3 separate regions of the Homo sapiens genome follow, and all the other regions are linked to region 1. The links come from fine-mapping of genetic effects on gene expression. A gene starts in region 1. Each other region holds a variant in brackets. All regions are shown on one strand. Distances are from middle to middle.

Region 1 (11,139 bases):
CTTTATGACACATTCCCTTTTCCTCCTTGCTCTTGATTCATTTTTGTCCTTGTGTTAAAGTCTGTTATTATTAATTCTTTTTTAATAATAAAAATAGTTAAGACTGTAGTCTGGCTATTTAAGTGCCTGTAGTCCCAGCTACTTGGGAGGCTGAAGCAGGAGGATCCTTTAAGCCCAGGAGTTTGAGGCCAGCATGGACAACATAGTAAGACCCTGTCTCTTAAATAAATAGAAATATAAATGAAAAATAAGGCCGGTTGCGATGGCTCACACTCGTAATCCCAGCTTTTGGGAGGCTGAGGTGGGAGGATTGCTTGAGCTCAGGAGTTCAAGACCAGCCTGGGTAACACAGTGAGACCCTGTCTCTTCAAAAAATAAAAAATTTGCCAGGACTGGCGGCACATGCCTGTAGTCCCAGCTACTTTGAGGTGGGAGGATCACTTGAGCCTAAGAGGTTGAGGCTGCAGTGAGCCATGATCATGCGACTGCAGTCCAGCCTAGATGACAGACCATGACTCTGTCTCAAAATAAAATAAAATAAAATAAAAAACCTTGTGAATAAATTTTAGCACTTATATTATTGCTCTATAATAGGTCATGTGAAAGGGTTAACAGACAGTAAAAGACAAAGTTTTTTTTTTTTTTTTTCGGGAGCTTCATTTTATTAATAGTATATCTTATTAAGATTCTTGCTTTTTACAGAAAAGTTGTAAAGATTAAGAAAAAAAATTCTGGCCGGGAGCGGTGGCTCATGCCTGTAATCCCAGCACTTTGGGAGGCCAAGGCGGGTGGATCACCTGAGGTCAGGAGTTTGAGACCAGCCTGGCCAACATGGAGAAACCCCGTCTCTACTAAAAATACAAAATTAGCTGGGGGTGGTGGCGCATGCCTGTAATCCCAGCTACTCAGGAGGCTGAGGCAGGAGAATGGCGTGAACCCGGGAGGTGGAGCTTGCAGTGAGCCGAGATTGCGCCACTGCACTCTAGCCTGGGCGACAGAGTGAGACTCCGTCTCAAAAAAAAGAAAAAAAAAATTCTTGCTTTAATACATATCTTTTTCAGCAAGTCTCCTGATTTAAAGTTTTTCATCCAAGTATAAATTAGAAAATCTAAACTGAAATAAACATAGTCTTTGAAATAGTAAAATCAATTATTAATAGAGAATTATCCGATTTAAGATTATAATGGTCATATTTCACATACAAATATTAGTTTCTGGAGTAGGGGGTGCTTAACCAACAGAAGTGGTAATAGTGAGTTTTGCTAAGTTAAAGGTACTTCTATATGGCTGGTGGTAGTTGTATGGGATGATACCAATGATATACTAGATTGTCAGGGCCATTTCCAAGATATAATTAATTTCAAAATCATATTTGCCTTTAATGTATTTCACAAGAATATAATAAATATGAGCATCTTGAAATCCTTTGAAAACTTGTATAGAAAGGTAACAAATTGCTTTTACTGCCATAAACACTAAAAAAACCTATGTAGTATATATCAGTACATAAGTATGATGATAATGATGAAAGACTATGTCTTCTATAAAGGGTCATAGATACATTAAAAAATCTTTTTTTTGAGACGTAGTCTTGCTCTGTCACCCAGGCTGGAGTGCAGTAGCACGATCTTGGCTCACTGCAACCTCTGCCTCCCAGGTTCAAGTGATTCTCGTGCCTCAGCCTCCCGAGTAGCTGGGATTATAGGCACTTGCACCAGGCACTTGCACCACCACGTCTGGCTAACTTTTGTATTTTTAGTAGAGATGGGGTTTCACCATGTTGGCCTGGCTGTTCTGGAACCCTGGCCTCAAGTGATTCGCCTACCTTGGACTCCCAAAATGCTGGGATTACAGGCGTGGGTCACTGCGCCTGGCCAAAAAATCTGTCATGTATCAGTTATTTATCACTGCCACAAATAGGAAGGTTTTTGCTTCTAGTGCACCCAAAATTTGTCAACAAGATTAAATTAAGCAGTTGCTAGTAACTTTGTATAAAATTATAGAGCTTAGTGCATAAGGAACATACTTTACAAATATGTAAGAAATGTATTTATACATATGCAGCAAATTTCATTTCTAGGACTCAAAAACAGTCAACTCTCATTTATCCACATGCAGTTTCCACTCTATCTTAAGGGATAATTTTTATTTTTTTTTGAGACAGGGTCACCTTTTTTTCACCAGGTGACACCAGGGTTGCTGTCACCTAGGCTGTCACTGCAGCCTCGACCTCCTGGCCCAAGCAATCCTCCCACCTAAGCCTCCCAAGTAGCTGTGACCACAGAATGCCACCATGCCCAGCTAAATTTTTTTGTAGAGACAGTGTTTCCCTATGTTGCCTAGGCTGGTCTCAGAACTTCTGAGCCAAGTGATTCTCCTGCCTTGACCTCCTAAAGTGTTAGGATTATAAGTGTGAGCCACATGCTTGTCCTTAAGGGAGAATTTTTAAGACTCAGGCTGCTATCACTAATATAATAATTAACCATTCAGAAAATGTGACGTTTTCCTCTCAATCTTTATTATTATTAATTTTGAGATGAAGTCTCGCTCTGTTGCCCAGGCTGGAATGCAATGGCGCAATCTCGGCTCACTGTAACCTCCGCCTCCCAGGTTCAAGCAATTCTCCTGCCTCAGCCTCCCGAGAAGCTGGGATTACAGGTGCCTGCCACCATGCCTAGCTAATTTTCTGTATTTTTGGTAGAGACGGGGTTTCACCACGTTGGTCAGGCTGGTCTCAAACTCCTTACCTCAAGTGATCCACCCACTTCCGCCTCCCAAAGTGCTAGGATTACAGGTGTGAGCCAATGCGCTTGGCCTCAATTATTAGCATTTAATAGAAATTAACATTACCCTTTAGCAATGTAGTCTCTGTTGCTGGGGAAATGCTGTTGGAGGTCAAGTATACATTTTATGAATAATTTATGGATTATTTGCAGTTTTGGATGTAATCTTCATTAACATGAAAATAACTTAGAGTTGACTACATATTTATTTTTAGTAAAGGAATACTCAACAATGAACCCTGCTTAAAAAGACAACCCTACTATAGGAATAAGTAGTTGTCTCCTAAAAAAGTGTGGAGATATGAAATGTGTGGCAAATAAGTTTATTTTTTATTTATTGACCGAGAGGGTCTCACTGCTGTGCAGGTTGGCATAAAATGGCGCCTTCAAAGCTCACTGCATCCTGGAACTCCTGAGCCCAAATGATCCTCTGCCTCAGCCTCCCCAGTAGCTAGGACTATAGGCAAGTGCCTCTACACCTGGCTAATTTTTAAATTGTTTTGTATAGACAGGGTCTTGCTAGTTTTCCCAAGAGGGTCTTGAACTCCCGGCCTCAAGTGATCCTCTTGCCTTGGCTTCCTTCCAAAGCAGTGAGGTTAGAGGTGTGAGCCACTGTGCCCTGCCATGTTGACTTTTAAAAACCCTGTAATAACTTCCAATTGTCCTCAAGAAAAAGTTCAATTCTTTTTTTTTTTTTTGAGATGGAGCCTTGCTCTGTCGCCCAGGCTAGAGTGCAGTGGTGCGATCTCACTGCAACCTCTGCCTCCCGGGTTCAAGCAATTCTTCTGTCTCAGCCTCCCGAGTAGGTGAGATTACAGGTGCCTGCTACCACACCCAGCTAATTTTTGTATTTTTAGCAGAGACGGGGGTTTCACCATGTTGGCCAGGCTGGTCTTGAACTCCTGACCTCGTGATCTGCTCGCCTCAGCCTCCCAAAGTGCTGGGATTACAGGCGTGAGCCACTGCGCCTGGCCAAAAGTTCAATTCTTTAACATGGCCCTACAAGGACTTTTGTGGACTCTGCTCCATTTTCCACTATCACTGTATTCTAACAATAAAAGCTGTTTGCCTAGAATGCTCTTTGACTATACACTGACTACCACTAGCAGCAATACTACTTTTTTTTCGAGATGGAGTCTCGCTCTGTCGCCCAGGCTGGCGTGCAATGACGAGATCTCGGCTCACTGCAACCTCTGCTTCCCAGGTTCAAGTGATTCTTATGTCTCAGCCTCCCCAGTAGCTGGGATCACAGGCGCTCGCCACCACGCCCAGTAATTTTTTTGTATTTTTGTAGAGACGGTGTTTTACCAGGTTGGCCAGACTGGTCTCGAACTCCTGATCTCAGGTGATCCACCCGCCTTGGCCTCCCAAAGTGCTGGGATTACAGGCGTGAGCCACTGCGCCTGGCCAATACTATTAATAATAGTTACAACCTACCGAATTCTTATTAGGCATGGGACAGTTTATATACATTATTAGTTATACTTTATGAAGTAGGTACTATTCTTAATCCAGGTGTACAGACAAGGCACAGAGAAATGAAGCAATTAACTGAGAGGAACACAGCTATTAAAGTGTAGGCACTTTAATCTGTTTCAATCCAGATCTGTCTGAATTCAATGATGTTCCCAAACTTGGAACATGAAAATATCAACTTTCTCCAAGAAGTCTGACATGTTTAATATCCTCTAATAGCAAATGTGATAAGGTTAGCACTTAAGACACTGGTTTACAACGGACCTGTGTACTTGATGCCTCCCCAACCGGAAGATAAGCCATCTGAACTCACTTAAGGCGGCATGTTCACTTTTGCTTCCCCAGCTCCACAGTTAAGTGTACCACAGTTTCTGGTACACGTAATGCGTGTTAATAAAGATTTGTTGAATAATCAAATAAGCGAAACTGCTTTTAAACAGAAAGCCATAATACAATGTTATTACCTTCGAATTTGGCTAGAGAACATCACCAAGCTTACCAGTTTGTGATCTAGACTCCACTTTTCCCCATTTTTTTCAGTGTGCTACTTTTGCTTATATCCATTCTTCTGTGACTTTGTTTGCCACAATTCCTTAAATACTTCCACCCCTCCTTTTCATAACAGCGATCTGCCGTTTGTGAACCTCTTTTACAGAGAAAAACTAGAATGTTACTTTTCCTTTCATAGCAATTCTTTAAAATTTCTGAAAGCCTTTAAAAGGGTATTAGCGCAAACATCAGAGATCGCTGAGGTTAAAACTATCTTTTAAAAATGAATTTCACCGTCTCAAAAAAAATAAAAATGAATTTCAAATCAAGGCTAGGCTGATTGGAGAAAAGCAACCTAGTATATTTATAAAGGTCTTCCAGTGCTGTCTAAGCAGTGTTGTCCCAGGTGGCATCCTATTTTTCATAATTTACCGAAGGCCCTTGGTAATATAAATACAGAGAATAACAGGTGCTGCACTGAGCAGGGGGTCTGTCTAAATCAACCTTTTTGGCTCCATTTTTTGACAAAGGGCCAAGAGGTTAGCGTAATCGGTCCAGTAGTTCTCATTACCTTCGAGGGGAAGGGGAAAGAGGAGAGGGGCGAAGAAAGGAAACGGGGAGAGGAAGTGTGGCAAATAGAAGATATTCTTCAGGTAGAGCCAGGGCTCGGGCCGCGTCCCCAGGTGGCCCCTCCAAACGACCGTTTACCTTGTCAATTTTCTCTTTTCAATGAAAAAAAAAAAAAAGACATCTGGCTTTTTAAGTAAGAGAATATACAAATAAGGAAGGTATCAGGTCTCGTGAGAATTCGGCGCCAGATCCGCGTCCGGAACCCCACCGAGAGCCGCCGGTCCAACCGCCGATAGCTCGCGGATGCCCCCGGGGGCCCGACGCCGGCCAGGCTTCCCCTAGCGCTCCCGCTACCCATAAGCCCTCGCGTCTCAGCGCGCACGCGCAGCGGCGACGGCCGTCTCAGGAAGAGGAAAATGGAATAAACAACTCGGAGGAACCAGAGCGCGAGAGAGCGAGTGGAGGCAGAATTTAAAAATAAACCGGCCCCTCCGCCTTCCCCACCCGCTTGCCGCTGCCGCTCCCTCTTCCCCTGCCCGCGCCCTCGAAGTCCCCGTCTGGGCCCGCGCGCTCACCCCGTCGTCCCGCGCGGCCCCTTTAAGAAAAGAGAACGAGAGAGTGAGTGAGAGAATCCCAACTCTCCCCCTACCCTCCCTCCTTCTACCCCCTCCTCCCTCCCCTCTCCCCTCCCCCTTCTCCCCGGGCGGCTCCGGCTCCCGCAGCGGGACAGACCCACCCGCCCAGGCTTTTATCCGGCACCGGCAGCGTCTTCCTTTCCTCCCCCGTCTATGGTGGTGGCGGCGGCGGCTCCTCGGGCGGCGGCGGAAGACGAGGCTGCGGCGTTGCCATGAACAGTGGCGGCGGCCTCCCGCCCCCCTCGGCCGCCGCCTCCCCTTCCTCCTCCTCGCTGGCGGCGGCGGTGGCGGTGGTGGCCCCGCCGGGGGTCGGGGGTGTCCCCGGCGGGGCGGCGGTAGGAGTGAAGCTGAAGTACTGCCGCTACTACGCTAAGGATAAGACTTGCTTCTACGGGGAGGAGTGTCAGTTCCTGCATGAGGACCCTGCCGCCGGGGCTGCCCCGGGCCTCGGCCTCCATAGCAACAGCGTCCCCCTGGCTCTGGCTGGTGCACCCGTGGCCGGCTTTCCGCCGGGAGCCGTCGCGGGCGGGGGAGCTGGGCCGCCCCCCGGGCCCAAGAAGCCGGACCTGGGGGACCCGGGGACCGGAGCCGCAGCCGGCGGAGGAGGCAGTAGCGGGGGACTCGATGGACCGCGGCTGGCAAGTGAGTGTTTTTCGGGCGGGGCGGGCCGCGGCGGCGGAGGGCAGGCCTGGGCCGGATGAGGCCCTGCTGCCGACGGGAGCTGAGCACGGCCCGCGGGCTCCCCCCCTCACCTCCCAAGGCGGTCTGAGAGGCCTAGGCCGGGCCTGAGCCCTCCTTCCTTCTTCCTGCTTCCCCTCCCCACTGCCTTCGGCAAGTCGGAGAGCGCGGGGAGGTTGGGTTCCCGGGAACGTGGGTGGGAGGACTGGGGTGATGTGAAGGGGGGGCGGGGAGGAAGGGGGATGGGCTGTGGCGTGCGGAGTGTGAGAAAGGGGGTGTCGTTTCCGGGGGGTGTGGAAAGGGGCTGGGTTTGCAGGCACATGTGTTTTGCGTGTCCTTGTGGAGTGGCGTCTGCAGAGTGTTGAGGTTCCCTAGTGGGGAGGGGTGTGTTTGTGTGTGTGTGTGTGTGTGTGTGTGTGTGTGTGTGTAGGGGGCGGGAGGTGAGGGGCGGGCTTAAGGCTTCGTGGAGTAGGTTGAAAGAACGGAAAAAGTTTGTAGAAGGCTTGCGGGAGAAAGGTTTTGCAGGCAGGAAATGCTTTCTAAGGATTAGGAGGGAGCGGACTGTCGCGTTCAAAGTGTGCTCAGGTTTAATCGAGAGTTTAGAGTAGGGATTTCACAAAGACGCATTTCATCTGAGTTTCCCTGAAAGCTAGAATAAGTTTGCTGGTGTCAGCTGGGATCCTGTCTTCTATAGCTTTGTATCAAGCAAACTCAGCATTGTGTCTTGAATGCATGTCATGTGCAGCCTGCGTTTATGTGCGACTGAGCACTTGGGTGGGGACATCTTAAGGCTGTTTATATTTCTTTTTCATGTGTTGTTGTTGTTGTTGTTGTTGTTGTTTTGGAGAGAGTCTCGCCCTGTCGCTCAGGCTGGAGTGCAGTTGCGCGATCTCAGCTCACTGCAACCTCCGCCTCCCGAGTTCAAGCGATTCTGTTGCCTCTGCCTACGGAGTAGCTGGGACTACAGGCGCGCGCCACCACGGCCAGATAATTTTTTGTAGTTTTAGTTGAGATAGTAGTCTCGTTGTGTTGGCCAGGCTGGTCTCAAACTGCTGGCCTCAAGTGATCTGTCCTCCTCAGCCTCTCAGTGTGTTGTTATCTATTGACCTGAAGCTTGTTAGTTGTTAGTGGAGTTTACAATTGAATGTGAGCGTAATCTGTTAGAGAATGTTGCCTTTACGAATAGAGCCGGTGCCAGATGTCCCTGTTTTGTTTCTTAGTATATTGAGCGTTTCTAAACCAAATAGGAGTCCTACTTTCTTGGGAATTCTGGAGAACTAGATCTTAAAATAATCTGATAGGCAGTTCAATTTGTACATGAGAACATTTTGTCTTTTTCTTAAACACTGTTAATGAACCTGATAGGAAGTTTTAGCATTTAATTGGTCTATGAGGATTATTTAATATCTTCCCCGGGGTTTTGCTTTCTTGCTTTTTCTTTCGAGACGGGATCTTCCTATGTTGCCCAAGCTGGCCTGGAACTCCTGGGCTCAAGCGATCTTCCTGCCTGGGCCTCCCAAAGTGCTGGGATTACAGGAGTGAGGCACCATGCTGGGCCAAGTGTTGTTCTGTTCTGTTCTTTTCTCCTTTCTCTCTTCTTTCTTTTTCTTTTATAGAAGTGTTTCATTTGTTGTGATGGGCTTGACTTTAATGAAGATATATTTGCTAAGGCTGATAATGCTAAGAAAATTAATTTTGTAAATTCAGATGTTTTGTAAAACAAATGGTTACTTATGGGTGGAATTTTATCACTTTCGAGCATCAACTTTGCATTTTCAGGTTAAAGTTTTGCTGGATGTGTGAGTCGTGACTCAGTAGTAATGTTTGATTAGTAACCAATGACACTGAACAATAGTTTTCTTACTGACAGAAAGAGACACTTTTTTTTTTTTTTTTTTTGAGACGGAGGCTTGCTTGTCGTCCAGGCTGAAGTGCAGTGGTGCGATCTCGGCTCACAGCAACCTCCACCTCCCAGGTTCAAGCAATTCTCCTGCCTCAGCCTCCCAAGTAGCTGGGTTTTACAGGCATGCGCCACCACGACCGGCTTATTTTTGTATTTTTAGTAGAGACGGGGTTTCGCCATGTTGGCCAGGTGGGTCTCGAACTCCTGACCTCAGGTGATCGTCCCGCCTCGGCCTCCCAAAGTGCTGGGATTACAGGTGTGAGCCACTGTGCTGGCCAGAAAGAGGCACTTTTTAAAATGCTGGTGTTAGACTTCATAGGTGATCTTTCTAGGATTCTCTTTTTAAAAAAAACTTTTAAAGTTTTATTTATCTATTAATCTTATTCCTGACAGACAGCTCTGACGATCATTCTAGGATTTTCTTTTTCTTTTTTTCTTTTTTTTTTTTTTTTTTTTTTGAGACGGAGTTTCACTCTTGTTTACGAGGCTGGAGTGCAATCTAGTGATCTCGGCTCACCGCAACCTCTGCCTCCCGGGTTCAAGAGATTCTCCTGCCTCAGACTCCCTAGTAGCTGGGATTACAGGCAGGCACCACCACGCTCAGCTAATATTGTAGTTTTAGTAGACACGGGGTTTCTCCATGTTGGTCAGGCTGGTCTCAAACTCCTGATCTCAGGTGATCCGCCTGCCTCGGCCTCCTAGGGATTACTGGCGGGAGCCACCGCACCTGGCCGAGGATTTTCTAATTAACACACAATAGGTAGAAGGGCTGAGACTTGAAAGAGGACAGGATGTAAGCAGATGAAGATGGGAGGGGAAGGTAAGTACCCTTAAGGTGGAGGAAAAAATATTAGCAGTGGCTCAAAGGTGGGACATCTTAGGAAAATAACTGAGATATAGGGACTCGAGAGGACAGGCAGTTAATGCTGAAAAGGTATTTTAAAATTAATACTTTGTCACTTGTTAGTAAAAGTTGTCTGATTAAATAGTTGATTTATGTATTTAGATTCTGTGGTGTTTGCTTTAGCTTGTCTGGCTGAAGCCTAAGGCTCCTCTTTTCTGTGATAGGCTTCTTGGTATCTCTCAGTAATTCCTTATGGATGGAGATTTCTTCATAAGGAATCACAACCTAGGTATTACTGAGAGATACCAAGGAGTGGGAAATAATGTTGCTCAGGAATCAGGAAAAAAGGTTGTGTTGGTAATTGTATGGCTTTTTTGAGTTTTTACACTTATTGTTCATTTTTTAGACTGCTTTCTACCTTTTACTGTATTCTCATTCAGTGTGTTTTGAGACAGTATTGATCCGTTTATTTTATTTTGAAGAGATGATGTCTTGCTGTGTTGTCCAGGCTGGTTTCGAACTCCTGGGCTCTAGCAATCTCCTGCCTTGACTTCTCAAAGTACTGGGATTATAGGTGTGAGCTACCACATCTGGCCTTCATTGGTTAATTATGTGTGTGAGGCAGTTAAAATAGATGGCAATTTTTTTTTTTTTTTTTTTGAGACAGGGACCACAGGCACTGGCTACCAAGCACCTCTAATTATTTTGTATTTTTGGTAGAGATGAGGTTTCCCCATGTTGCCCAGGCCGGTCTCAAACTTCTGGGCTCAAAGCGATCTGCCTACCCTGTGAGCCACCATATATACCATAATTTAGTGTTTTTAATTTCTATGTTTGTGGGTTTTGATTGAATCATTTGACAACAAAAGAAACAAAAGATTTAATATAGAAGTACAAATTTCTGGTTTCCCTTTAAGGATGTCTCTTACCTGTGTTGGAATTAGAGCTGTTGATAGAGCATAATTCTCTCCATTTTGACTCATTCCCTAACTGGATGACTTTTATATCTAGGCATTTGAGGTTTTGACTCTAACTTTAGCACTTCACATTTGCAGAATTGTTTTTGTTTTGTTGGTGTTTCAGATAGTGTTAAAACCTTGGAGGTGGGTGCATGAGAAAACTTTATCTTTATTTTGCAGCCATTGGAAAACTGAAGCACAAAGGCTTTTTCTTAATACACTTAGTTGCAATGATGTTTCAACCTTATAAGGAAACTGCAATTTGATTTTTTGTTTTTGTTTTTGTTTTTGTTTTTTTTGAGGAGGGGGTTGGGAGTTCTTGCTGTGTTGTCTAGGTTGGACTCCAACTCCTGGGCTCAAGTGATCCTAGCACCTCAGCCTCCTGAGTAGCTGGGACTACAGGTATGCCGTACCATGTAGCTTACGTAACATTTCGTATTTCTGTTAGTCTTGGGATTTTTCTAAGGCTTAAGAGTGATTTGATTTGTATTCAACTGCATTATCGATTCTTGACATTTAATGATGTAATTCTAATATTTTCAACTGGCTAGATTTTCAAAATGGCTTTAATCTTCAAAGTGTACAATTTTTAACAGGTAAAATATGCCAATATTTGTATTTTATGTACATTATTTGAAACCCAGTAGTTTTAATTTACCAAAATACACTTTTCAATTCTCCTAATGTAGTTACTAGTGAATAAGACATGTTTCAGATAGAATCCTGGCTCTTTGACTAGCTTTGTGACTGAACGAATTTTTAACCTTTAAGCCTCAGTTTTTCTCATCTGGAAAATGGAGAT
Region 2 (11,139 bases), 150 kb after region 1:
AGTGCAGTGGTGCCATCTCAGCTCACTGCAGCCTCTGTCTCCTGGGTTCAAGCTATTCTCCTGCCTCAGCCTCCTGAGTAGCTGGGACTACAGGTGCCCGCCACCATGCCCAGCTAATTTTGTATTTTTAGTAGAGACGGGGTTTCACCGTGTTGGCCAGGCTGGTCTTAAAGTGATCCACCTGCCTCGGCCTCCCAAAGTGCTGGGATTACAAGTGTGAACCACTGCACCTGGCCTGTAACAATCTTTTCATCTAGCACTATTGTAAAGAAGGGTTTGAGAATGGAAATGGGTAAGTGCAGTCCTACTTCACTTTTCTTTCTCATTTCCATAGTAGTGAAAATGTAGAGAAGAGACATGTTTACTGTTTCTCCATTGGCTGTTACAGTTTTCCAGAGGAATGAAATGTAATATTTAAGAATGAACTTGACTTGCATGAATTAAAATGTTTTCAAAATTTTGTGTGCTAAGATGACGGCAGCCAAAACAGCTATGTTTGGGTTATCTTGTTTTTTAAATTGCATGTTGGACATCCAAGTAATTCCTCTTTTATCTTGGGTAGGTATTTGTTGACTGACCAAAACAGGATGCGAAGTGTAAATGACATCATGCCCATGATTGGTGCTCGATTTTATACTCAATTGGATGCTGCTCAAATGAGAAATGATGTCATAGAGGAAGACCTTGCAAAGGTAAAGAGTGTAAATTTTTTTTTTTTTTTTTTTTTTTTGAGACAGAGTCTTGCTTTGTCACCCAGGCTGGAGTGCAGTGGTGCTATCTCGGCTTACTGTAACCTCTGCCTCCTGGGTTCAAGCGAGTCTCCTGCCTCAGCCTCCCAAGTAGCTGGGATTACAGGTGTACGCCACCACACCCCGCTATTTTTGTATTGTTAGTAGAGACGGGGTTTCACCATGTTGGCCAGGCTGGTCTTGAGCTCCTGAGCTCAAGTGATCCGCCCGCCTCAGCCTCCCAAAGTGCTGGGATTACAGGCGTGAGCCATTGCACCTGGCCAGTAAAGAGTGTAATTAAAAGAATGTACACACAACTTGCATCTGTGTATATAAATAGACACAAAATAATCATTGTACTAAATATAATGCCTTATTTGCTAAGATTTCAGATATTTTTGTCGGCACTGAATGTTTGGTATTTTAATTTCTTATGTCCTCTGGACAACACTGTTCTTTTCATTCATGGCTTTGCTACAGTCATGTGACAAAAATCTTGGTTTTTCATGTGAGTTACTTTTCCAATTCCTATGGACAGCTCCATAATCTTCTTGAGTACCATTATGAAATGAAATGGACATATTGTGTTTGTTTAAAAGTATAACCAAAAGGTGGGGATGTTAGGATTTATTGTTTAAAGGTAATATTGGTACAGGTTACCAGTTTTTGTAAATTTTGGCTTTTATGTTCAGTTATCTGGAACATTAACATTTTTCTCTTTTTAAAATGTTTTATAGGAGGTTCAAAATGGAAGACTGTTTAGGCTCCTAGCAAAATTGGGAACAATCAATGAGAGGCCGGAGTAAGGATTTACAGTATTTTACAATATATTTTTAATCGAGAGCACTATTTTGCATAATAAGAATAAGTATGCCTGGCTTTATTTGGAAAAAGAGAAAAATTCTCATGTGAAGTGACCTTAAGATTGTGTTAGCTGTTAAGGTGCTATTTTTAACAACAGCCTAGGTGTGGCTGTCCTTACGAATTTTACACACATGTATACACACAGAAAATATGGTGTGTTAGAAATCTCTTGTGGTTTGCACATGAGGGCACATTTTATGACTAATACTACCTCTACCCTATCTTCTTTTTGAGGAAGAAGTTTCATGTAAGTTTACCCTGGTCAGTTTAGAGACTTGAGAAATCTCTAATTTTTGCATGCCTCTTACCTTCTATTAAAGCACACTTTTTTTTTTTTTTTTTTTTCTTGAGACGGAGTCTCCCTCTGTCGCCAGGCTGGAGTGCAGTGGCACAATCTCGGCTGACTGCAACCTCTGCCTCCCAGGTTCAAGCGATTCTCCTGCTTCAGCCTCCCAAGTAGCTGGGACTACAGGTGTGCACCACCATACCCAGCTAATTTTTGTATTTTTAGTGGAGATAGGGTTTCACCATGTTGGCCAGGGTGGTCTGGTCTTGAACTCCTGACTTCAGGTGATCCACCTGCCTTGGCCTCCCAAAGTGCTGGGATTACAGGCATGAGCCACCACGCCTGGCCTAAAGTATACTTTTTATAGCCATCATATAAGTGACATTGGAAAGGCATTACCTTTTACACTATTTGTCACTTAGTTCCACCTCATTTGTAAGTTAATGTTAACCATATATACATAAGCAGAGTCGATGTTTGTACTACATAACTGTCAAAGACAGGTAGAACAGAATTTGCAATTACTATGACTATATACGTAAGTTACATTTCAGGAATGTTTGATTTGTTAATAGAGATAGGTGAGAGATAAATACTATTACTTGAGGGGTTGTTTTTTTTTTTTACCATGGAATTCAAGTCCACTTGCTTTTCTTCAAAGTCGAAAGACTCATTTAGTGTCTTCCCTAATAATTTTTCTAAGTGAAGAGAACATAACAATATATGTTAAACCATTTTTAATAAACTTTTAGCTGTTTCTTCTAGCATTTATCTCTTTACTTTAAAATGTCTGCTTATAGTTCTATTCTTGATTCCCCCAATATATAATTCAGCTAATGACTCATCCTCTTCCCTACACACGTGCACGCACGTGCACACACACATGCACACATGAGTTGAATCTGTATTTAGTGTTACAAAACACCTCTCCCATGCGGTCAAAAATAGGTAACCTATCAGTTCCTTTTTTTCCCTCCCACCTAGAGAATTGGCTCTGGATCCTCTGCACTTCCTGTTCCTATCTGGGCTGGTTATGCTTTAAGCCTGCACGTGCTTACACTTTAGAACTGGAACTTCCCTTCAGTATTATCTGGGAATTCTCATTATCTCTCTGTGTTGGATACCCTGTTTTCTTGCTTTATTCCTTGGTTTGTTTATTTATTTATTTATTTATTTATTTTGACTTAATGGAGCATGTCCTTGTAGCTTCCTGAAAAAGGTGAGTTTTTTTAGTCTTGCAAGTTTGAAAATGGCATTATTCTACTTTCACACATTATTGATACTGTGAATGCATACTAAATTCTAGATTGTCCTCAGAAAATTTTTCCTTTTTTTTTTTGAGAGGGAATCTCGCTCTATCCCCCAGGCTGGAGTGCAATGGCGCATTCTTGGCTCTCTGCAACCCTCGCCTCCCAGGATCAAGCGATTCTCCTGCCTCAGCTTCCAGTGTAGCTGGGATTACAGGCGCATGCCACCATGCCCAGCTAATTTTTGTATTTTTGGTAGAGACAGGGTTTCACCATGTTGTCCAAGCTGGTCTCGAACTCCTGACCTCAGGTGATCCACCTGCCTCAGCCTTCCAAAGTGCTAGGATTACAGGCATGAGTCACTGTGCCCAGCCAGGAAATTATTCTTATTAATTAAATTTTTTAAATAGGTTGTCTATGAATAAAGTAAAAAGTAGGAAAAGTTTGCAGTGAAAACTGTAAAAGTCTCTCTTTCATACCTGACATCCCCAATATCTATTCCCAGTTTCCCCCATCAGTCTATATTTTTAGTTTCTTCTGTATTATTCCAGAGTTACAAATACAACTATATATTCTTATCCCCTCCCCCTTTAAATATATAAAAATTGTAAACCATACACAGTATATTTTATCATAACAGCGTGTTTTAGAAATCTTTCTATTTAGATATGTTTAGTATATGCCAAGCACTATTCAAAATAGTTTACAAATATGACCTGACTTATTCCTCATAACAACCCTATGATGGAGTTACCATTGTTATTCCTATTTAACAGAGTAATTGCAGCATAGAGAGGTTAAATAACTTGAACAAAGGTTGCGTAATTAATAAGTATATGATCCAGGACTCCAGTCTAGACAGTATGGTTCCAGAGTGTGTGCTCCTAACCACTATGCTATGTGTCTCCTCATACTTTAATGGCCTGGTAGTAGTTTATCCTATGGATGTGTTATAGTTTATTCCCCAGTTCCCTATAGGTGGGCATTTGGGCTGTTTTCAGTCCTTTGCTAGGGTGGGCGGTACTGTAGGGACTAACTTGTGCATACTTAATCTTATATATATGTAAATATAGGCCAATTGTGATTGCTAGGTCAGTAGGTGTGCCACTATAATTTCATAGCTATTGGAGAATAGTTTACCCATGTGTGTAATTCGTGAGACTGCCTCACCAAAATACTTTTTTCAAACTCTTAGATTTTTGTCAACCTTGTAGGTGAAAAATTGAATTTAAATGCAGTTTTATGTTCTATGTACTCTTAACAAGCATGTTTGAGGGTCTGTTTTATGCTATTGATCCATTCTTATGTCCTGTTCAATTCATATCCTTTGCCCATTTTTATTTTCAATTGGATTGCTTGTCTTTCTTATTGATATATAAGAGCTAAAGAGATTCACTCTTTTTGTGATTTTTTTTTTTTTTTTGACTGCTCATTCCCCACCCTTGGAGACATTTGTATATGTCTGTAACTGACCAAATTTCTTCTTTGCTTCTGGATTTTGAATCATAGTTAGAAAGCCTCTTTCTACTCCAAGATTATGAAGGAACTATTTCATGGTTTTTTCCAGAACATTTGTGGTTTCATTTCTTCATATTAAAAATGTTTTATGTGGTTAGAAATTGTATAGGGTGTAAGGTGTAAGTCCATCTCCCCTTGTCCCCAAGACTACCTAGTAGTCCAAAAGCTGTTTATTGAATAGTCGAACAATCTAGCTTTTCCCCACTGGTTTTTGAAGCCACACCTCTTCCATACTATTTTAATTCAATCATGAAATTGAATTTTGAAATCTAGCAGTATTCTTTCCCATCTCCATTTCATTGGGCACCACTTTGTTGTTTTCCTAATACTATTAAATTTTCTGTACAAATTCTAGAATCAGCTTCTTTAGTTAAAAAAAAATCAATAAACCTGATGGTTTCTTCATAGGGAAGATAGCATATTTATCGTGTTTAAACTCTGGGAACATTTGTGATTTTAGATGTTGAGTCATCGTAACCAAGATCATGGTATGTCATTCTATTTGTTGATGTCTACTTTTGTATTCTTCAGTAGTATTTAAGTTGTTCTTTATATAGTTATAGCAATACTGAGTGTATTCTTAGGTATTTCATCTTGTTGCTATTATAAGTGGGAAAATTTCCCCCATTCTGTCTTCTTGTTACTGGTATATATGAGAATTCTTGATTTCTTTAAATTTTATGCTCTGGTACCTTATTGTTTGGGTCGTTTTCAGTAAATTCTCTTTGAGTTTCCCAGGTGTTATCTGCAAATAATGATAGTTTCCTTCCCAGTTTCTATACTTTTAATTTCTCTTGAGTGGTTGTGTTAGCGGGTACTTTCAGTACATAGGTAAGTACTAGTGATGATAGTTCAGAATTTGAAGCATTGTTCCTTTTAACTTCCAGGCAGATTCAAAGGCATTTTCTTTATAAATCCTTTCCTTCCTCCAAGCTTTTGGGTTTTGTTTGTTTGTTTGTTTGTTTGTTTAGTCACTGATGTTCAGAAATTCACAGTGATGTTCCTTGGTGTAGGTTTTGAGTCATAATGATGGATTAACAGGTGAACCCCTTTAATCTTGGAAACTTAACGTCCTTCAGTTCTGGGACATGGTCTTCATTGTTTCTTTAATAACTTCTTGTCCTGGAATTCTCATCGCTCAGATGTTAGACCTTTGCAATTGATTTTCAAATATTCTCTTCTATTTTCTATCTCTAATTTTTTTTGTTCTACTTTCTGGGCAGTTATCTCAACTGCATTTTTCTAAAATTAAAGTTTTTTTTCTAATTCTTTGAATTTTTAAATTTCTGCTATCATATTTTTATTTTCCAAGAACAATTCTGTTTTCTGAATGTTTGTCTTGTACCATCTAATTCTTGTTTCTCTGAGGCCGTCAGTTAATAGATTTTTGCTGGTGGTTGGTTTTTGTTTGTCTTAGTTTTAAGTTTTGTTCCATTCCCTGCAGTATCTCATAGGAAACAAGAGTTTGCTTTATTTTGTTTTGTTTTGTAACAAAAGATTTCTGATACTTAGCTGTCCATTTGTATTAAAAATAAGGTCCTAAAAAGCCAATGGGAAGCCTTTGTGAGGGCAGGGATTATAGAATGTTGAACCTTTCTCTGTGATAAAGCAGTGTGATGTTGTTATACATGATTTTTGTTTGTTTTTGATAGACTGTCAAGGATTATCATTTGTCTTGGACAGGTCAGCATCCCCTGAAAAGAATCTTCCAACCTCTACTGTCTGTGGTATAAGCCTGACAGCCAGGGTTTGGGAACCACACAGAGGGAAAGCATTTGTTGAATAGGGTGTCATCCAGCACTCCTCAGCTCTTCATCTTCTGGTTTGCTTGGCATCCCTGAGGCTCAAGCTTCTCTCTTTCACCCTTTTTAGAAAGTAAAACCTCCAGATTTTTGCCAGACAGGTGGCAGTGGGGTTGAGAGATGGGTTATCTGTTTGCTGTTTATAGAACCTTTTCTCAGTTCTCCTGTTTTCAGCCTCAGTCCAAACTTGCACTTTTAGTAGTCCTTTGTGGCTTCAGTTTCTGAGCTACGCCAGTGTGGGTTGCTTGATTCCTGTGGGCACCCTCTTCCCACATCCCTTGTAGAATTAGGGTTCAGTTTTGTCAGGTCTACTAAGTCATCCCACTTACCTATCTGCCTCTGCATTCCAGATGTTCATGATTATCTCTTGTTCACTATTGTTGCTTTTTCTGATCCCTTTGTCCTTGTGTTTATACCCTTTTTTAGGTATTTACTGTCAATTTGATGGGCTGTTGAAAGGGAGCAGAGATAAATGGGTGTTTAATCTTCATTTTAATTGGAAGTCCTTGGAGTGACCTTTGCAAACATACATATATGATTGTGCTAAAACCATATGGTGAACTTCTCCTCTGGTTCTTAGAATAAAGACCCAGTTTTAAAACATGTCCTAAGCTGTGTAGTCTGATCCCTACCTACTTCTCATCCTGGCGTCAAATCTGCCTTTTATTTAATTTTCTTCCCCCCATCCCCCATTCTTTGTTCTTGTCTTCACTCTGTTCCTTTTCCTTGCCCTTACCCTCCCTCTCCGTGTATTCTGTCGTCTTTTCTTCTCTTTTCTCCCCCAACCCATTCAGACACATGACCTTCCTTAAGTTTCTTCAATGTCCATGCAAATACCGATCTCTGACGAAGGAGCATCCTTCTTCTGGGAAGAGCAGCCACTACTTCCTCTGGAAAACCTTCCTTAATTGCTTTATATACTTATATTCACACATAATTTTACATAAATTTAATGTTATACATTTTCTGTAATCATTGTTTTTACCTATTTTTTCTTAATGGGAATTGTATCACAGTTTGATCTGGGAAGCAGAACGACTTTAAATGATACAGAAAAGGGATTATCAGCCAGGCGCGGCCCTAGATAAATTCATCTTCGTTTTATATCATATTCCTTTTAGGAGCATTATGTAAATATGCAGTTACAGCTTTCTTTGATTATTTGAATAACGTCTGTTTCCTACTAGACTGTAAGTTCCTAAGGTCACTGAAAACTCACAGTGGTCATCTGGTTCTTC[A/G]CAGCTTGTTTTCACATGGAATGGTAGGAAACCGATATTTACTTCCTTTTTGTTTCCTAAACATTTTTCTATTTTATGCTTATTGGTGAAGTAGAAGATGTACCTGACCTTTCTCTATTCTGTAACCTACAGAGTGGGAGGAAGAGAAGAGAAGATATTTAAAGATATTTTTACCTTTTCCATTTTATCTAATGGTAGGGGCTGAAATAAGGAGGTAATGTAAAATAGGAATGCATAAGGGATGATTTCCCCCTGACATTTGCTAACTGAAAACTGGAATTCATAGACTTACTAGTTCAGTTAGATTATTTTTTAAAAACACTGTACCAGACTCCCTCCCAATTTTTTGTTTATTGGGAAAAAGTAAAACTAGTTTGGAGTCTAAAAAATAGACATATGGCCACAGACCATACAGCATGAGTTACTGAGGTAAAATGTTCATTTCCCCCAGGTTTCAGAAGGATCCCACTTGGTCAGAGACTGGAGACCGTTATCTGTTGAAACTCTTTAGGGATCATCTTTTTCATCAGGTGACAGAAGCAGGTGCTCCCTGGATTGACCTCAGTCATATAATTTCTTGTCTTAACAAGGTAATTTGTATCTAGATTTTTTAAGATCATAATTCTGCCTATAATTTGTATAGAGTTGTATCTTCTACAAATACTAGGAAACTTAAGAAATCAGGATGTACTCTTAAAGTAGCCTGTAAGACGTTTTATTAATAACATTTTCTACAATGGGAGGATTTTTACAATACTTGCATGAATAATTTTTTGGGGCAGTGGAGGACAGAGTCTTGCTCTGTTGCCCAGGCTGGAGTGCAGTGGCCTGATTTTGGCTCACTGCAACCTCTGCCTCCCGGGTTCAAGTGATTCTCCTGCCTGAGCCTCCCGAGTAGCTAGGATTACAGGCACCCATCACCATGCGCAGCTAATCTTTAGTAGCGACAAGGTTTCACCATGTTGGCCAGGCTGGTCTCGAACTCCTCACTTCAAGTGATTCGCCTGCCTCAGCCTCCCAAAGTGGTAGGATTATAGGCGTGAGCCACTGCGCCTGGCCTTCATGAATAATTTTAGAATGTTTTATTGTGGATCTTTTTATTATGATAAAGTATCACAAAATGACTGCTTCCCTCCTTTATGCAATGTTTTATTTACATGTGGTTTTGTTATGCCGCTTAAAACAGTGAATGGTAAAAAGCAAAAAAATAATTTTGTGTTTATTTTTTAAAAATTGAACCCCTTCCGAATCATTGTGAGTTATGTTGGGTGTTATCAAATCATTATTAACTATAGATTTTTTTTTTTTTTTTTTTTGAGACGGAGTCTCTGTCACCCAGGCTGGAGTGCAGTGGCGCCATCTAGGCTCACTGCAAGCTCCGCCTCCCGGGTTCACGCCATTCTCCTGCCTCAGCCTCCCAAGTAGCTGGGACTACAGGCACCCACCACCATGCCCGGCTAATTTTTTGTATTTTTAGTAGAGACAGGATTTCACCATGTTAGCCAGGATGGTCTCGATCTCCTGACCTCGTGATCCACCCGCCTCAGCCTCCCAAAGTGCTGGGATTACAGGCATGAGCCACCGCACCCGGCCTAACTCTAGGTTTTATAATCAAGTAGTAAATAATAAAAGCACAATACTAGTGACATCAGTTACTAGCAGGTCCAGCTGTTATAAATGGTGAATTTGATGATTAGATGAATTAAGTAGATAAAAAATAGATCATAAATTTATTTGAGAGGTGAGGTGAGCTTTTTTTTGGAACGGGGTTTTGATCTGTCACCCAGGCTATAGTGCAGTCGCACTTATGGCTCACTGCAGCCTTGACTCCCCAGGGCTGCAGTGGTCCTCCTTCCCACCTCAGTCTCCTGAATAGCTGGGACCACAGGCACACGCCACCACACCCAGCTAATTTTTGTCCTTTTGGTCGATACGGGATTTCACCATGTTGCTCAGGCTGGTCCCAAACTCCTGAGATTAAGCAGTCCACCCACCCCCAAAGTGTTGGGATAATAGCCGTGAGCCACCACGCCCAGCAGCATTATGTTTTAGAAAAGGTTGGGAAAAGGCTAGGCGCAGTAGCTCGCGCCTGTAATCCCAGCACTTTGGGAGGCCACGGCGGGCGGATCACGAGGTCAGGAGATCGAGACCATCCTGGCTAACACGGTGAAACCCCGTCCCTACTAAAAAATTAAAAAAGTTAGCCGGGCATGGTGACAGGCACCAGTAGTCCCAGCTACTCGGGAGGCTGAGACAGGAGAATGGCGTGAACCCGGGAGGCGGAGTTTGCAGTGAGCCGAGATTGGGCCACTGCACTCCAGTCTGGCCGATAGAGCGAGACTCCGTCTCAAAAAAAAAAGAAAGAAAAGATTGGGAAAGACAAAATTTACAGAGAAAAGAAAGAAGACAGTTCCCTTATGAATTACTTGGCATTATGAAGTTTAGAACTGGTCTCCAGGAGTAAATGTAGTCTCTGTATAGGTTTATGTATAAACCAGGAGCTGGTAAGCCATGGCCTGCAGGCCAAATCCGTTCTATGGCCTATTTTTTTAAAGCGTGAGAGCCTCGAATAGTTTTACATTTTTAAAGAGTTGTAAAATAAACAATAAGCCAAACCTAAAACATTTACCGTCTGACCCTTTATAGAAAACATTTACTGACTCTTGGTCTAAACTTTCCTAAATTATAAGTACTAGAGGAAAAAATATCTACTGTAGCACATGATTTAGAACTATTAATGTACAGTGTGGTAACCTTTCAGGGAAAATGTTACGGTTTGTTTTTAAGCACTACTTTGCCTTCCTTTAACTTCCTTAAAACTCTATAAGGAGTATTGTCAATAACCTACATTAAGACTGCACAAAACTGGCCAGGCTCGGTGTCTCACGCCTGTAATCCCAGCACTTTGGGAGGCCCAGGTGCACGGATCACCTGAGGTCGGGAGTTTGAGACCAGCCTGGCCAATGTGGAGAAACCCCATCTCTACTAAAAATACAAAATTAGCCGGGCGTGGTGGTACATGCCTGTAATCCCAGCTACTTCGGAGGCTGAGGCAGGAGAATCATTTGAACCCCAGGAGGCAGAGGTTGCAGTGAGCCGAGATTGTGCCATTGTACTCCAGCCTGGGCAACAAGAGCAAAACTCTGTATCAAAAAAAGAAAAAAGACTGCACAAGACTATATGTATCATTGAACTAATTCAGTATGAGTTATATATTTATTTTCCCTTTATTTATGTTAGGGGAAAAACCTTTTCTTGAGAGCAATATGTAGAAAATAATTCTGTCAGATTTTAGAGCATAGTATCAGAGTACCAGTAGTTAAAAATACGTAGAACCAGAACAAACATTGACAAGTAGGTAATATGGAATAAGCCATGGACAGTTGCCTTAAGCAAAGATCATTTAATGAATATTAGGATAATATTAAATTCATCAAAGATCATTTAATGAATATT
Region 3 (11,139 bases), 160 kb after region 1:
CCACTTCTACTTTACTTTTTTGTGTTTTTTTAAAATTTTTTAAAAACCAATTTCTTAATACTTTACATTTTATTATTAATATTTATACTTCTAAGTATTTTTCCTAAGGAAAAAGTACTTCCCACAGAAGAAAAAAATTAAGTAGATGAGTATGTTCATTGCACTGTAATTTATTATGCCAAAAATGGAAGATACTGGGAGAAAAATTATGGAGCATCAACTGGGTAAACTATAATACAAACAAACGTTAAGCGTGAAGGGATAGAAACATAGGGCAGTGTTTGTGTAAAAATGTCTGAGTCGAAAATTATGTGCATACTGATGAATGATATAAATGTACTCATGGATATCTGAAAGGGAATGTGACAAAAAAAATTTAGATATTTTATTTATTTTTGCTGCAAACGTAGATAAATTCTTTTCTGCATGTTATGAATTTCATATTTTGTGTATATATTGTTTCAGCTAGATGCTGGTGTGCCAGAAAAAATAAGCCTGATTTCCAGAGATGAGAAGAGTGTACTTGTGGTGACCTACAGTGACTTAAAGCGCTGCTTTGAAAATACTTTTCAAGAACTGATTGCAGCTGCAAATGGTCAGTTGTAGTATTTGCTAAAAAAGCACGCAGGACATGGCTAAAGACCTTAACCAATAGCAAATTGCACTACAGCTGAACTTTTCATCATCTCATTCACATTTGGGAAACGAACAGGAGATGAGCAAAGCTGCTTGCACTTCAGTCAGGTACACTGTTACTTGAAAGGAAGAATGTTTCACTTACCCAAGAGCTATGGCTGCCATTGGAGGCTGTTATCTGTGAAGAATTTATTTTAGATTTAGGAGCACCATCAGGTGAATGATGTTCCTGCTTTTGTTTTTTCCACTTGTATATGCACTAATTTTAATTTTTTAAAGACTTTTTCTGATCTTTGAACTTTTGCCACATTGTATACTTATAATGGGAAACTTTGCAAGGACATTTTTGGGAAGCAATGCTGGGCAGCGTTTTTGCCATTGAGGGTTGCAGAATTTGCTCTTTTTGGGATGGGTTGCCCTGAATAACATTACGGACCAGGTAAATAATTTCATAGAAGTTCAGTATAGTACGTAATTCTTGTAAGAGTATCGTATGCAAGCTCTCTGTATGCCACCCACTGTTAGTTCAAATTGAGATTTTTGTTTTGTTTTGTTCTTAAGAACATACCAAGAAAATACCAGTGAATTGTTGGATATGAATTCCCTGTTAGTTGATTTAAATCCTTTCTGAATAAAGATCAGATAAACAGTAACTGAAGGAGCATGTATAGCTCTTTCCTTCAAATTCAACTAGAGCCTTTTTAAAAAGACATTTGCCTGCTAGTCAGATACATTTACATTTATGCAAATTTTTTAAATAGGAGAAAATTAAGAAATTGTGTTAAAGGCCTAAAGTTCAGGAGTGTATTACTTTAGGTTCTTTCCAGTTTGCTGGTTTTTTTTTTTTTTTTTTTTTTTTTTTTTGGGCGGGGGGGAGGTTTATGAAGTTTTGCTCTTTGAACCACAGCTTTATTATGGTCCTTTACACTGGAGACAGACACAGAGACACTGTTCAGAAGATGAACTAAACTCAGCAGTGGTCTGGTATCAAGAGCTTTCTGATGTTTTACAGCCTGAATTTGGAGGGATAACGATCTGCTGTGCCTTTGCAGTCACTGCTTAGCCCAAAGTAATAGTACTTTTGATAATAACTCACTCTGTGCGATATTCCTGAATAAGTCCATCTCAAAAGTTTGGGATTTTCCTCCTCTTAACTTTCTTAATATTTGGACATGCAGTTGTCGCCAAACTTGGGTATTCATGGAATTTCTAGTAAATGAAATACCTATACTTTGATACTGAAGACTGCCAAATACATAGGAATTTTCTTTCTTAAAAAACAGTAATGAAGACTATATCTCCTTTCCCAGCACTGAATGTTTTACTAGCACTGGGTGCTCACCATGCAACTGAAGAAAATGTGGAAACTCAAAAGGTCAGGACAGACTTCCAAGCACTTGCAACTGATGTTACTGTCTTCAATTTTAATAATTACACATATTTGTATATTTCAGAGAAGTTTTTAATATTTCTCTGTCCACTTTTTATAAGCTTTAAAATGATTTTCTCTGCCTTGAGATTTGCATCAAGAAAAAGCACCTCTCTTCACCTGAAAGCTTTGAAGACTAGAGACACGCTTTACACGTTTTAACAAGTATATTGAGTCCACGTTTGGTAGCATCAGTTGTTGAGTTAAAAAGAAAATTATTGCATTTGATCTGGATGGATTTTAAAAGAATATAATGTTCAATATTAAAAGGATAATTCACATTTGCCACCATAATGTTCTTTTTTATGTAAAAAGAAGAACTTGGAGACATTAACATGAAAAAGTCTTTTATCATTAGCTCATGTATTTGAGGAAGAGCAGCTGTCTTTTTATATGTTTTTTGACAAATCATATTGTATTCTTTTGTACAAAAAAGAACTACTTGTATTCTAGAAGAAATATGAAATGCTTAATTTATAAGCGGGCTGGAGATTTTTTCCAATATTGTTTTCTTTGAAAATGAAAGGGGATCATCTATTTTAGTTTTGGGGTCTGGGAACTTTTTGAAAATTTAATTTGTGGACCAATGTTTTGTGAAAGCTAAAGAGGGCAGGGGTTAAAATAGGGCTTGAATTTCTCATTCTGTATAGACCAGCAAACTTCCCTGTGCAAGGCAAGTTTACATCACAAATCCAAGAATGTTTGCATCCTAAATGCTAGTTTGCTTCAGCCCCTAGTTAACCTCAGGACTTGGTTTGCATATAAAAGGTAGACAGCTGATATGTTTTCATGAATAAATATTGTCAGCCAGAAAAGGTTGGTGTCAGGTAATGCATATTTTTTTAAGCTTTGTTTTATATTTATTTTTCATTTAGTTTTTATTGGGAATGGTTTTCAAAGAACTCTCAGTTCTGCCTAGGTGTTTTTGGGGGAGCCCTGTTTTCCATAGTGTAATTCCATTTAAGAGGTTGTCTAAAAGTCTTTTTAATTAATAGAAAGATTTTAATATCCAAGAGTAGTCAAATTAAGGATATAAACTTTCCACACCTTCCTGTCGTGACAGATAAAAGCACAGAAAGGACAACCCTTGAAATCATGTAACGTTGGTCATTTCAATATTTTGTACCTGTTTTAAATTCTGTTAGTGTATTTACTTCATTGTAAATATTTTTGAGGGTACCTTTGTATTTTGCTTTTGACCTTGGTTCTGTGATTTGGATGTCAACAACTTCCCTAAAAAGCACCAGTGTGTTAGGTTCTAATGTCATGACCCAATTTGTGTTATTCATCTTTAATCCTGTTTTCAGTCTCTATGTGTACAGCAGTATTTTTAATAAAGAATTACAGAGATAAATTTGTCCTTTTCTTGCACGTGTTCATATAACAAGATGATGATTATCTTATGATTGGATTTTAAAAGATTGGTTATTTCCTCTGTATTTTGGAGGAATTTTTGTATTTGGATGAAATGGCAGCAGATTTATTCATTAATTTATCAGGTAGTCCTTAAGTCTTATCTACTGTGTCCTTGGATCTGTTCTAGGCACTAAGACAGATACAGGGACTTGGTATTTACAGAATGTATAGTTATACCCAAACATCTTAATACAATACATGACTAACAATGTAGTTTAGGAGAGAAGACTACTCACGAGAAAGCATAAGGGGTCTGCCATGTGTATGTCTGGTGGTAAAGTATTCCAGGTAAGGGAATGTTTCAGAGCCTTTGCGGAACAGCAGGGGAGCGAATGTGGCTAGAGCCAAGTTAAGTAGGAAGTGACGTCAGAAAGGTCTATAGGGAAGGGGTGTGTCCTGTGGACCATTTTAAGTATTTTGGCTTTTACCCTCAAAAGAGGAAGCCGTGCCGGGCGCAGTGGCTCACGCCTGTAATCCCAGCACTTTGGGAGGCTGAGGTGGGCAGATCACGAGGTCAGGAGATCGAGACCATCCTGGCTAACATGTTGAAACCCCCTCTCTATCAAAAATAAAAAAATTATCCAGGCGTGGTGGCAGGCGCCTGTAGTCCCAGCTACTCGGGAGGCTGAGGAAGGAGAATGGCGTGAACCCAGGAGGCAGAGCTTGCAGTGAGCCTAGATCGCACCACTGTACTCCAGCCTGAGCATCAGAGCAAGACTCTGTCTCAAAAGAAAAAGGAAGCTGCAGGAGGATTTTCAGCAGAAGAGTAACATGATAAGACATTTAAAAAGGATCACTCTGGCTACGACGTGAACAGACTGAGGGAGGAAGTGAGCTGTTGACATGGTGGGAAACTGACAGCATCCCAAGTGAAGGATGTTGGATTTTAAAACCCATGTCTTTTGAGTTTTGTTGGGTTTTTTTGTTTTGTTTGAGACGGAGTCTCACTCCATCGTCCAGGCTGGAGTGCAGTGGCACGATCTTGGCTCACTGCAACCTCTGCCTCCTGGGTTCAAGCGATTCTCCTGCCTCAGCCTCCCGAGTAGCTGGGATTACAGGCATCCGTCACCATACCTGGCTAATTTTTATATTTTTTGTAGATACGGGGTTTCACCATGTTGGCCAGGCTGGTCTCAAACTCCTGACCTCAGGTGATCTGCCTGTCTTGGCCTCTGAAAGTGCTGGGATTACAGGCATGAGCCAAAGCGCCCAGCCATCTTTGAGTTTTAAAACCCACCTGCGACTGAGCACGGTGTCTCACAGCTGTAACCCCGGCACTTTGGGAGGCCGAGGCAAGTGGATCACCTGAAGTCAGGAGTTCCAAGACCAGCCTGGCCAACAGAGCTGGTCTGACAAGAGCGAGACTGTCAAAAAAAAAAAAAAAAAAAAAACACCTGGACTAGGGTGGTAGCAGTAGAGGTGGTGCAGAGTGGCTGGACTTCAAATAAGGTTTTAAAGGTAGAGCCATCAGGGATGTCCTGATTCACTGGATGCGGACAAAGAAGAGAGAAGTCAGGAATGACTCTTAAGATTTTGGCTTGCTGGCCAGGTGCAGTGGTTCATGCCTGTAATCCCGACACTTGGGAGGCCAAGGTGCGCAGATCACCGGAGCCCAGAGTTTTGAGACAGGCCTGGGCAACATAGTG[A/G]GACCTTGTCTCTACAAAAAGTAAAATCAGCCAGGCATGGTGTCACGCACCTGTAGCCCCAGCTACTCAGGGGGCTGAGGTGGGAGGATTGATTGAGCCCAGGAGGTCAAGGCTGCAGTGCACCGAGATGGAGCCATTGCACTCCAGCCTGAGCGACAAAGTAAGACCCTGTCTCAAAAAATATTTCCTTTGGCTTGATGCTCACAGGATAGAGGATTCTGCTGAATTGGAAGAGACTGTTGTAAGAACAAAGAGTCTACAGGGCAGGGGAGGATGGAGAAACAGGAAAAGACAATTTGGGAGTTTGGTCTAAGGCCCATTAAGTTTGAGATGTTTAGTACACATTTGTTCTGGTTATTTGCTTTGTAACAACTCCACCCTTAATGGCATAAAACAAGCATTTTATTACATTCAAGGATTCTGTGGGTCAGGAATCTGGGCAAGACACAGCAGGGAGGCTTGTCTCTATGCCATTGTGATTGGGCCTCCGCTGGGAAATTCCAATGGATGGGGGCTGGAGTGACTTGCGGGCTGGACTCAGCTGGCTGCTGTCTATGGGAGCACCTTCACATGGCCTCCATGTGGCTTAGGTTTCTCCAAGTATGGCTGCTGGGTCCCTGGCGGGAACTGTTGAAGAGTGAGTGTACCAAGACTCAGGAAGTGCATGATCTTTTCTGACCTGGCCTCCAAGCCATGCAGTGTCCCTTCTTTCACATTGCATTGATCACAAGTGAGTCCTAAAGCTAGCTCTGATTCTAGGGGAGGGGACATTGCCAAAGGTCGTGTGCCAAAGGTCGTGTGAGATGGGAGATAATCTTGCAGCTGTCTTTGAAAAATAGAATATTTTTGAAAAATACAGTACAATATCTTTGAAAAATACACCTGTATTTGAAAAAAATACAGTCTGCTAGAGCATCAAGGGGAGATGTCAGGTTAGCACTTGTGTATATATGAGTTTAGAGTGTTGCAGCGGGCAGGAAGAATCTCTTCTGTCCATGAAAGTCATCATATGGGTGTCATTGAAAGCCCTGAGATTGGTTGAGATCATGAAGGAAGTTGGTATAGACTGAGAAAAGAAAGCTTCAAGGGCAAGCCCTGGGGTAACTAGAGCAATGTTCAAAAGTCAGGGAAAAGAGGTAAAACCAGCAAAAGAGACAGGTAGCCTATGAGATGGGAAGAAGAAAGTATCATGTCCTGGAACCAAACTGAAGTTGTTTTTGCGAATAAGTGTCAAGCTGCTGAAGTGTCAAATAAGAATGGGACTGAGAGTTAGCCATTGGATTTATCAATATGGAGTCACTGGTGACCTTAGCAAAAGCAGTTTCAGTGAGTGATCGTGAAAGCTAGGCTTGAGTGGGTTTAAGAGTGAGTGGGAGGAGAGGAGTTGGAAACAAGTAATAATAACTAATAACCAACTCGCTCATGGGATTTTGCTGTAAAGGGAAATAGAGAAATTGGGTGGTAGCTGGAGGAGAAAGTACAGATGAAAATTTTGTAAGATGGGAGAAATAACATGTATGTTCCAGTGGAAAAGGGGAAAATTGATGGTGGGGGGCGGTGGAGAATTGCTAAAGCAATTCAAGTCTCAGAGGGACACCAGTGTGTTTTGGGTTGGCTGTCTAGAAGGGCAAGCACAGTATATGGGGACATAAGCTTGGAGGTGGGGAGATGTGACAAGTGGGGTCTTGGAGTTCTTTAATTTTCCCATTGAAGTAAAGGATATACTAATAGTACCTATCATGTTAGATTGCCTTGAAAATAAGTGTGTTCCTTTAAAGCACTTTAAATAGTTGCTGGCACATATTGGGTACTCAAATGATAGCAATGATAGCAATTACTAGCTATCACTGCTTCCCAAATACCAATCTGTGGAACAACATGTGTTCATTAGTTTATTCTAGTACAAATGAAAATGGGAAAAAGAAGGATAATATAGGTATGTTTCAAAACAAATATATTTTAGTCTGAGATTAAGCCCTTCCACCTTTTAAAATGGGTTTTCTCCTATGAAAAGTAGTGGTACTAAATGGCAGGGGTTTTTTTCTTCTTTTAGTAATATTGCATTGAAGAATTGTGTACATACATTCATATATATACACACACATTCACAAGTAAGTGTGCAGCTCAGTGACTCATCATAAGGTGAGCATACCTATGCACTACCACCCGGATCAGGAAATAGAACATTAGTAGCATCTGGTTGGATTTTGGGTTTTTTTTTTCCCCCTCCCTCAAGTGTTCTTAGCTCGCAGAATAGAAGAATGGCCATCCCTGTGTTGGGATCAAGGATTTTTTTTTTTAATTTCCTGGCCTGTGAAACCCAAAAGTCTGGTAATATGTTTAACACTGAGGAGTCCAATAAACCTTACTAGGCCATACTTCTGCTGGAGGAAAGAATAAAAATTAATTCCCAAATGTACTATAAGTTTCCAGAGCCATGAGAACATTTCTAAACTGACGTGACATTGATTCCTCAAGCATTCTTCAAGTCATTTGCCTGAATGAATGATTTTATTCTTATGTTATGAAACCCATAATACTTTTTAAAGGATTTCAGATTCTTGAAGACAAAATGCCTCTTGCCCTCTTGAGTTAACTAAAAGTGTACTGAGATTTGTCATTTATCCATTTTTATTGTCTTTGTCCCAAAGAAAGTAGGCCTATTTTTTCCCCTTAAAATATCTTTCCAATCTAGTTTCCTTATGATGATATTAGGCGGGTAATACTATGACCAATTTCTAAGACAAAGTGTTGGTCACTTATTCAATTTCTAGTACTTAGTGACCTGAGTTGTTTTCCTAGGACATAATCCACAAAACAAGATTGAAGAATACAGAGCTGGCATGTGTACTTTTACATTCTTGGGTTTCAAGCTTTTGCCTATTATTTTGTGTGGTTTTCTGCAGCATGTGTACACACCCTCTGTGATTATGCTAATTATTTATCAGCTGAAAATTAGTGTTTGGGGACAACTGCCTCTTTTTAATTGAGGGCACTTTTCTCTGCGGCTGGCACTCACACCCAGCATATGCTTTACTTGTTTCATGATCCTGTTGATGTTAGGGTTTAGTTTTCTGGGCAATCTGCCTAGTTTGATTTTGTTTTTTACTTACTGGTTGCAGTGTTCTGATTGTTTAGCACAGCCATTTTCTAGGACCGATAGAAACCTCTTTGCCCTCTCTTCAGCAGCATTTGCTTTATCTTTCTTGTGCTGTGTTTAATAAAGAGCACTAGTCCTCCACCCCCAGGGACACCTGTGACCTCTTTTTTACACTTAACAAGCAAATCAGGGAGAAAATATATGTGTTTTTGGAAGTTTATTATATGAAGATGGTATACAAAATACATTCATCATGACTAGAAATATAGGACCAAACCATGTCTGTCTTATATCTGTAGCATATATTCTTGGTTTGTATAAAAGTAACTTTAAAATTCCAGTTTCCTTAAATAGTTATGCACAAAACACACATACACCCACACACACACACACACACACACACACACACACACATACAGTTACACCACTGTCGGCCAAAGATGCACTCCTCCTTTAATCAATTTAAATGAGGCTAGCGAGTATCTGTTTGATGTTTGCATTCTTGTGGGCTAGGAAACAAGGCACGGGTCCCTAAAATTAACATCTCGGTGTCACTTCTTGGACTGACAAGACACAGACTTGCACATGGTTTCAGCCCCATTCCACCCAGACTGTTCCACGTACATTATCTCAGAAACTCTGAAAGGAAGTGCTCGTTCTTTGTTAGTGCCAACCATTTTTGTCATAAATGGCAAATGATTGGAATATTATCAGTTAATTCATGTTTCAATTTTCAGTGCTATTTTAATGAACAAGCACTTTGTAACTAGCTCATTATTACAAGTCTCCATTTTTCTTTCTACATTAAGACTCCAGATGGAACCATTCTTTGACTGATGGATGGACTCATGTATGCTACAAACCTGAGTTTGAAGGAGCTGAGTAACAATTCTAATGGTTTTGCTTTTCTCTTGAAAAGGAGTATTTATTATGGTCTCTTAATGATTAAGAATTAATTATTGAAATCAAGACATGAATAGCTAAGGTTTTATTTGTTATCACTATTTGCTGGGCTATTATCTGATTTGGAAAAAAAAAAAAAAGTAGAGAATTGACTGAGGTCTTCTTTTTTCTGTGTTTAACCTCCTTCCAGTTACCTGATTTATAAAATTGCCAGCTGTCACAGGTGGTTTGCGTATGTAAAGAAGAGGAAGAACAAAGATTTGTCCTCTCTTCTGGCTCTAGCCTGCTTTTGTTTGGATTTAGATCTTGGTGGAGAGGACTGTCCCACTCCTCTCTTCTGGCTAGTGAGTCTTCCACAAAAGCCGCTGCCAGGAGCCAGTAGGCTCACTAGGGAATGTGCTGATGACGGTCCCATCTCTTCATACAGAGAGCCTTTAAACAAGGATGTGGCACATAAGAACAGAGGCATACATTCTTCGGTTACTTAGAGCTCAGGTTCTACAGTTAAATTACATGGATAAAAGGAAGCATACTCTTCTCCCCAAGAAGCAGCAATCCACTGTTGCCTCTCCAGCTTCTGACTGGCTGCAGAAGGTGCAGACATCATAAATACATAGACCCTAACTTGCATAAATAGCATCAAACAGAGCCAGCTTAGCGATCCAAGGCCCACTTGATCTTTAGACCCTGAAGAGTAGGCGCCCTTTCCTACCCTGTCTCCCTATTCCCATCATGCTCAGACCCCAGGCAAGTTTCAAAGCAGTTGAAAATGGGCTTTTCTTCTAGTGATGGCTCATTAACTAATATCCTGAGTCCCAACTGGAGAAATACCTTGCATAAATTACATACCACCTTTTTACTCAAGGAGCTTAAAGTGCTTAATATGCGCCAGCTAATGCTCTTCCACATCCTTTCAGATTAGTGTGAGATAGTGGAATCCCCATTAAATGAAAAGGAAACGTGACTGACTTCCTGTGTTTTGGGTCCCAACTGTGTTGGTGAATTGGTTTGGTTGGTATAGAGACGGGGTTTTCCCTTGACCTTATTGACCTTTTTCCTCCATCAGCCCTCGTTTTGATATGGAGAAAACTCCTCTCCTCAGGACTGCATTTTCATTCTTCTCAGCTTTCTTTCACAACTAACTGTGCAAAACAGAATAATACCAAGAAATTGAGTTAAGTGTCTGGACTATATATTAATACCCAAAATAGAATGTGACATTTTCAGTGTAAGGCCATCATGGCCTGGAGACAACCTAACTCTGGCTAAGTTTTCAGTGCATCTTACTAGAGGAGCCAAAAGTATGGGCTCAGAGTTGAGTGCCACCCTCAGTGCTACAAATCAAAACATGCCACGAATGAGAATGGACATAGAACCACTTCCATAGGTAAAGTTCTAAAATTTGCTTTAGTTCCAAAAAAGATATTTGTCCTTTTCTTGCCTCCCAGAATCCAGAAAATGTCCCCTCATCGCTGTCCATCTGCTCCTGGCTGGGCCCTCAAATGTAGAAGGGTCAGAGCTGGGAAGCCACTGAAATGGCATTGCTGAGCCCCGTCCCCCTCCGTGCCCACATGGTGCGTCTCAAATTCTTTCTCATGCCTTCTCCCGGTTTCTCTTTTCTCCCTTGCTTTTTGCTTTTTTTCCTTTTCCTCCTCACATGTCTTAGGCCTGCTAGAGGACTCCCGAGATGTTGCTCAGGCCAGCCAGTGATCCCTGGGGCTAACGGGCTTGTTGCCCTGGGTTTTGGGCTGCAGGGCTGGCCCAGTGGGGTACGTGATGCATTGGGTGATCAGTGCAGCTCCTCAATCAAACTGGTCCTGCGTGCCCTGAGGTGGCGGGGGTTGGAGCAGGGAAGTCATTGGGTTTAGGAAGGATTTCTCTAACACTGAGTAACATGAGGATTTAGCAGTAGTGTTCTTCACTTGTCACTATTTCTCTATCTGGAGTTACATTCTTGTTAGTCAAAAAAAAAAAAGCACTATTAAAAAAATCACAAAAAGCAGCTGGCT

The links.
Region 2: its variant is fine-mapped to the expression of PAN3 in whole blood (TOPMed, PIP above 0.99).
Region 3: its variant is fine-mapped to the expression of PAN3 in whole blood (TOPMed, PIP 0.92).

What each region holds. Positions count from the first base shown.
Region 1 is chr13:28,132,493-28,143,631 of GRCh38, forward strand. It overlaps PAN3 (poly(A) specific ribonuclease subunit PAN3), which reads left to right and starts at 6,053. Exons shown (of 19, transcript NM_175854.8): 1 at 6,053-6,595. The coding sequence starts at 6,166. PAN3-AS1 (PAN3 antisense RNA 1) reads right to left here and starts at 6,682. Exons shown (of 2, transcript NR_029383.1): 1 at 6,055-6,682; 2 at 4,351-5,913. RefSeq lists silencers at 5,898-6,007, 6,198-6,277, 6,318-6,717 and an enhancer at 6,800-7,094.
Region 2 is chr13:28,279,850-28,290,988 of GRCh38, forward strand. PAN3 (poly(A) specific ribonuclease subunit PAN3) reads left to right here. Exons shown (of 19, transcript NM_175854.8): 16 at 563-692; 17 at 1,466-1,530; 18 at 8,135-8,273. LOC124903140 (a long non-coding RNA gene) reads right to left here and starts at 8,138. Exons shown (of 2, transcript XR_007063735.1): 1 at 2,506-8,138. RefSeq lists enhancers at 9,205-9,706, 9,707-10,206. The variant A/G (reference allele first, on the strand shown) is at 7,684.
Region 3 is chr13:28,291,917-28,303,055 of GRCh38, forward strand. PAN3 (poly(A) specific ribonuclease subunit PAN3) reads left to right here. Exons shown (of 19, transcript NM_175854.8): 19 at 466-3,419. The coding sequence ends at 606. It overlaps FLT1 (fms related receptor tyrosine kinase 1), which reads right to left. Exons shown (of 30, transcript NM_002019.4): 30 at 8,430-11,139. Among named protein-coding and RNA genes, the nearest start is that of PAN3-AS1, 160 kb to the left of the region's middle. RefSeq lists a silencer at 4,398-4,556. The variant A/G (reference allele first, on the strand shown) is at 5,128.